2 linked regions of the Homo sapiens genome follow. The protein of the gene in region 2 purifies or fractionates together with the protein of the main gene of each other region. This does not show direct contact. Each region holds a gene or a part of one and is shown on either strand. Other genes may lie near its edges. The genes, in order: KGD4 and TCAIM.

Region 1 (3,827 bases), on a different chromosome or scaffold from region 2:
TTCCTATGGGTATAGGAAAAAGACTAAAATAAAGTGCTATCAAATGTTTTAATTTGGGCCGGGCATGGTGGCCCATGCCTGTAATCCCAGCACTTTGGGAAGCCGAAGCAGGTGGATCATTTGAGGTCAGGAGTTCAAGACCAGCCTGGGTAAAATGGGGAAACTCCATATCTACTAAAAATACAAAAATTAGCGGGGTGTGGTGGCGCAGGCCTGTAATCCTGGCTACTCAGGAGGCTGAGGCAGGAGAATTGCTTGAACCTGGGAGGCGGAGGTTGCAGTGAACAGAGATTACGCCACTACATTCCAGCCTGGGTGACAGAGGAGACTCCATCTCAAAAAAAAAAAAAGTCTTTTATTTGTTTTACGTGGGTCTTGGGATTATAGTGTTTTCTTCTTTGTGCTCTTCTGTGTTCTTCCAAATGTTTTACACAGAATTTGTGTTACTTTTGTAGTCAAAAAAAGTATTCTTTAATTTTCTAATTTTCAAAATGATTGTTTTTTCTTCCCTGTTAGGTATTAATATAGTAGGGAAATAACACTCAAAACAAGTCAGGAGGCCAGGTGCAGTGGTTCATGCCTGAAATCCTAGAACTTTGGGAGGCTAAGGCAAGAAGATTGCTTGTACCTAGGAGCAGGAGGCGGAGGTTGCGGTAAGGCCACATCATGCCAGTGCACTCCATCCTGGGCAACAAGCCAGACGCTGTCTCAACAAAAAATTTAAAAAGTCAGTAAATTTCTGCCGGGTGCGGTGGCTCACACCTGTAATCCCAGCACTTTAGGAGGCCAAGGTGGGCGGATCATGAGGTCAGGAGATTGAGACCACCTTGGCTAACACGGTGAAACCCCGTCTCTACTAAAAGTGAAAAAAACTAGCCGGGCGTGGTGGCACGTGCCTATAGTCCCAGCTACTCGGGAGGCTGGGGCAGGAGAATCGCTTGAACACAGGAGGTGGAGGTTCCAGTGAGCTGAGATCGTGCCGCTGCACTCCAGCCTGGGCGACAGAGTGAGACTCCGTCTGAAAAAAGAAAAAAAAAAAAAAGGCAGTAAATTTCCAGTGTTTTTTCTTTGAGATGGGGTCTCACTCTGTTGCCCAGGCTGGAGTGCAGTGGCAAGATCTGAGCTCACTGCAACCTCTGCCTCCTTGGTTCAAGTGATCCTCCCACCTCAGCCTCCCAAGTAGCTGGAACTACAGGCACATAGCACCACATTTTTTTTTTTTTTTTTTTTGAGACGGAGTCTCGCTCTGTGGTCAGACTGAAGTATGGTGGCACTATCTCTGCTCACTGCAACCTCTGCCTCCTGCGTTCAAGCGATTCTCCTGCCTCAGCCTCCTGAGTAGCTGGGATTACAGGTGTGCACTACCACCATGCCCTGCTAATTTTTGTATTTTTAGTAGATACGAGGTTTCACCCTGTTGGTCAGGCTGCTCTCGAACTCCTGACCTCGTGATCCACCTGCCTCAGCCTTCCAAAGTGCTGGGATTACAGGTGTGAGCCACCATGCTCAGCCACCTTTTTTTTTTTTTTTTTTTTTAAGATGGAGTCTCACTCTGTAGCCCAGGCTAGAGTGCAGTGGCACGATCTCAGCTCACTGCAACCTCTGCCTCCGGAGTCCCGGTTGGTTCAAGCAGTTCTCCTGCCTCAGCCTCCCAAGTAGCTAGGATTACAGGCACGCATCACCATGCCCAACTAATTTTTGTATTTTTAGTAGAGATGGGGTTTCACCATGTTGGCCAGGCTGGTCTTGAACTCCTGACCTCGTGATCCGTCCGCCTCGGCCTCCCAAAGTGTTGGGATTATAGGCGTGAGCCATCACACTGGGCCTTGTTTTTCTTTTTGTTTTTGTTTTAATTTTTGGTAGAGACGGGGTTTCACCATGTTGCCCAGGCTGGTCTCAAACTCCTGCACTCACGCAATCTGCCTGTCTGGGCCTCCCAAAATGTTGGGATTACAGGCATAAGCCACTGCACCCAGCCAGCTTTCATTCTTACCAATCTATAAGTCATGCAACATAAACTCTACATCATCTCCTCCATTGGGTTGCTTTGAAGTGAAGTACACCTTCGATAGTACAATGAAGTCTTGTGATATATAAAGTACAAAGTTGTGTTTACCGGGTAGACAAGTTAATAATTCATAGACCAGCTTTCCTGGTTGGGGAAGAGTATAATTTAAAGTTGCTGTAAAATAGTAATTTTAACAAACGTATCTACTTATGAGGTTTAGTAGATCATTTCTTTTAGTTAATGAGATTGTTTTTCATGCATATTACTTTTCATTTAGGTAGTCAAACCACACACTCCATTAATAAGGTTTCCTGACAGAAGAGACAATCCTAAACCCAATGGTGAGTTGTATTTTATTTAAATTTCTTTTAAAATTGTGTACATGAATATTTATAAATGAGTATTTTATTATAGGCAATATTTCTCATTTTAAAATCAGTTAAGACTATTGTAGCTTAGATCAAAATAGTGCCTTATGTAGCATGCAAGTAGAAATTAACTTATGGCTGGGAGCGGTGGCTCACGCCTGTCATCCCAGCACTTTGGGAGGCCGAGGCACGCGGATCACCTGAGGTCAGGAGTTCAAGACCAGCCTGGCCAACATGGTGAAACCCTGTCTCTACTAAAAAATACAAAAAATTAGCCAGGCGTGGTGGCGGGCTCCTATAGTCCCAGCTACTCGGGAGGCTGAGGCATAGAATTGCTTGAACCCACGAGGCGGAGGTTGCAGTGAGCTAAGATCATGCCACTGCACTCCAGCCTGGGTGACAGGGCAAGACTTTGTCTCAAAAAAAAAAAAAATTATTACCTCTATTTTATTTTATTTTTTGAGACAGGGTCTTGCTCTGTCGCCCAGGCTGGAGTGCAGTGGTGCTATCTTGGCACACTGCAGTCTCCCCCTCCCGGGTTAAAGCAATTCTCGTGCTTCAGCATCCTTAGTAGCTGGGATTACAGGCATACACTAGCACGCCTGGCTAATTTTTGTATTTTTAGTAGAGACAGGGTTTCACCATGTTGCCTAGGCTGGTCTCGACTCCTGATCTCAGGTGATCTGCCTGCCTCCGCCTCCCAAAGTGCTGGGATTACAGGCATGAGCCACTCACCTGGCCTTTATTACCCCTATTTTAAAAGGTAGTGACTCAACAGAAGATGTCTCTGAATTTCTAGTGAGTTTATATGGGCAAAATTTTGTCCTACCTTTATTCTCTCCTATCCTTTAGAAGATTCTCCCATGCTTACATTTGCAGAGACTGGGAAAATAATAACCATTCCTGTTTCTCTCCTCACCAACCATCTTTTCTTTCATTCATTCATTTATCTATTCATCTAGTCAGTAAATATTTTTTGGATTGCCTTAATCCTTAGCATTTATTCAAAATTAATGGGAGAAGATTCTGAAAGGGTTCTGTTTTTCTCTGATTCCCGCCCTTTTTTAAAAAAACCAGATCCTCTGTGCCTCTCTTGATCTTTAATTCAGGCAATTTTAACACATTTTATAGGTATATTTTTAACTTATTGTAACTATTGAAGAATTAAGATGTTTAAACAAGTGTAAAGATATTGAGAAAACTACCCTCATTTACATTTACTGACTTTCTTATTCCTTATTGTAAGATATTACCTGTAAACTCCACCATGTGTTGGCCTATGAGGGGTTATGTGACATAAGCTTAAGTAGTGTAGGTTCCCCTAAAGGGTTGAATTCCACTAACTAGAAATTTCATTATTTTACATTTTTGTAATTCATTTACTTAAGACTGCCCCTTAGCTGGGTGCAGTGGCACATGCCTATAATCCTGACTACTCACAGGCTGAGGTG
Region 2 (2,919 bases):
TTCATGGTTAGCCAGTTGCCAGGCCTCACTGGATGCCTCTGTGGCTCCTATACCTTGGCCTGTGGGTGGGAGGTTGCCAGGACCATGGTCCCCTACAGAGGAGCCTGCAGCCTTGGGGCCCATCAGTCTCCATGGAACTGATTTGATCTGCTTGGTTTGCTCCAGGGAAGCCTGGGCAGAATTCTCCAGGGAAGCTGGGGGTGGGGCGGCAGACTCCATGAAAGAGGTCAAGTTAGTATGGGGGACACAGGGGCATCAGGTTGCTGGGACAGTGACCTGAGCTGGAGGGGGTTAACTCCAGGGACCTCTATCTGGGATATACACTTACTCCCAAGAGATGCCAAAGGTGAGCTGGCCCTTGAGACAGCCCTGGTCCCTTTTGTCCCACCTGGCCACTTCTGAAAGCCCACTACCCTCTCATTAGCTCAGGAAGGCCACCTGGAGGTGCAGTCCTTTAAGAGAAAGGAGGAAGTAGGGCCTGGTAAGAACCTGTCCTAGGGAAACACACATGCCTTCCTGCCAGGACAGCCTGGGCAGGGGAGTGCAGGCCTGTTTCTCCCTTGGGACAGGCCTAGCCCTGAGCTGGAGCTCAGGTCCCTTTGGAGACCACTTCTCACCTGAGACTTTGTAGAAACAGTGAGGGGGGCCTGCTCCTGTGCCAGCTTTCAGTGGTGGGACAGAATTTTCTCTTTCATGTTAGAGTGGGAAAGGAAGTCAAACAGGCATATACAAGTACCAATTTCTTCTCATTTCCTATTATACTGCAATAGTTCCAAAACTAATAACAGTTGGGTAACAAGAAAAAAACAGTTATCTGGTTGATGTATTATTTATTATGTAACAGTTCTGAGAAAAAATCCAATTCAAAACATATTACTGAGGATTCTGTATTAGTATATTTTAGAAATCGTATAATCCAAAGCTGATTTTCTAATATATTTTCTTATATAACACTTAAGGAATTTTTCACTCCCATTATTTGGCTCTAGAAAATCTTATGGGAAACATTTGTTACACTAGAAAACAAAATTTAAGTACAGTTGTTAGGCACGGTTAAAAGGGATGATACACACAAACTATAATAATTACAAATCAGTACTTCTTTTGAATACACATTTGAATGTAAACTTTTAAAATCAGTGTTTTAGATAAATATAAAACATACTTCAAGAACTTATTTTAACATCTCTTTTACTTTCTAATGCTCTTCAGAAAAAATTCCTTTCTGATTCATTCAGTAGCAAGAGCCCAAAAATGGTGTTCCAAGCCAAGATTCACCTTGTCCTCTTCAGAAATGACCTGAAGAGCTTTTGGGTTGGTTAAAAATATTGCCCGAAGGTATCTTAGGGTAAACTCGAAGAGCTAAAAGCACTGAATCCAGAGATCAGGTCTCTCGGCTGTGCTGGGGACACCATCAACCACTTGGGGTTGAATTCTATTGCTATGAATGAGAGGTGACTCTGAGGGGCTTTAACCAGGCCGGGGCTAATGACAGGGTTTCAAACATCAGTAATAACAGGAAGATCGTGGTTGAGAAGAGTGACAAGAAATCCTGAATGGTCTGAACCATTTTACACTTGATTCTATTTCTTAGAGCTCTTTGGGAAACAGGCAAGCAAGGCTTTTCCTGGATAGTGTTTGCCCATGAAACAAATGAATCACCTCACTAAATGATTAAAAAACATTTCCTGTTGGTTTCATACTACTAACAATTATAATATTTTAATGGATAGGAGAAATTATGGGTTTAAAATTAAATTCTCTGTTAATGCACACGTTTCAATAAACTGGTTATCAGACTGCTTATGACAATGTCAGTACCATACATTCAACTGCTTTTAGTCCTTCTAGTCTTTCTCTTGGGCAAAATTGGTGGTTATCTAATTTCTGTTACCTATCAATCACCTGTTTTGGACATTAACTGTCAATTACTGGCTGCAAAATATGTCTGTGTATATTTACATGAGATGTAACTATACAGATGCATGTTGAATTGTAGACATGAGTTCCATTATTTCAGAGCTATACTCTGAATGTGAGACCTTTATATTTACACACACATACCTCTCCAGCCCAACCCAACATTCATTCATATAAAAATATATGACTATTGTAGAATCCTTCATTTACATATCACTAAAAATATGTTCTTTCATTCTAACATCTTTTTATCTAGCCTTGCCAACCAACATCATAAGACTGGGATATAAAATCTTTTTATTAGTTACTTATTTATTTTAAATTATCATTATTATTTTTTGAGACAAGGTCTTGTTCTGTTGCTCAGGCTGGAGGGCAATGGTGCAATCTGGGCCCACTGCAACCTTGGCCTCCTGGGCTCAAGTGATCCTCCTATCTTAGCCTCCCTAAGTAGCTGGGACCGCAGGCATGAGCCACCACGCCTGGCATATAAAACCTCTCCTAGCAGAAATTAATTTTTTTAAAAAAGTCTACTTTTAAAGCAGCAGTTAGAAACTTTGTTCTTATGTAAATAATACTGTTATATCAAATTGTGGATTTAAATATTTTTAATTTAAGTTCCTTTCTTATCTCTTAAAAAAATAAAACAGATTTCTGTGTTACTTAATGGCTTCTCCATTCTTCCAATTCCAAGGAATACAAAGGTCTCCATCTTGCATAACAGAGTAAAAATGTGAAATGCAGAGGTGCATCCCATGTAGGTAAGGCAGTGATTGTTCTAGAAGTCTCTTACAACAATCCACCATTTGTATACTAGAAATGCTGGGCTCTTTATATAACTTCTCCAAAGAAAATTTCTTTGTTGATGCCTGTATCAATTCATTTTCAATAACCTTTAACCTATTATATAGAAAATAAAAATATTGTCATAAGAACAAATATTGTCATAACCAAACAAAAGAACACACAATGTAAATATATTCTTACATGTTGGGGCCC

What was found.
Region 1: the proteins of TCAIM (region 2) and KGD4 purify together in Homo sapiens (affinity purification with mass spectrometry; one large-scale study listed by BioGRID and IntAct). This does not show direct contact.

Annotation. Positions count from the first base shown.
Region 1 is NC_000005.10:69,224,053-69,227,879, forward strand, and holds part of KGD4 (alpha-ketoglutarate dehydrogenase component 4), read left to right. Parts: intron 1-2,285; coding exon 2,286-2,349; intron 2,350-3,827. UniProt on the Homo sapiens protein: Molecular adapter that is necessary to form a stable 2-oxoglutarate dehydrogenase enzyme complex (OGDHC). Enables the specific recruitment of E3 subunit to E2 subunit in the 2-oxoglutarate dehydrogenase complex (OGDHC).
Region 2 is NC_000003.12:44,407,343-44,410,261, reverse strand, and holds the end of TCAIM (T-cell activation inhibitor, mitochondrial), read right to left. Parts: intron 2,821-2,919; coding exon 2,580-2,820; 3' UTR 814-2,579; downstream 1-813. UniProt on the Homo sapiens protein: May regulate T-cell apoptosis.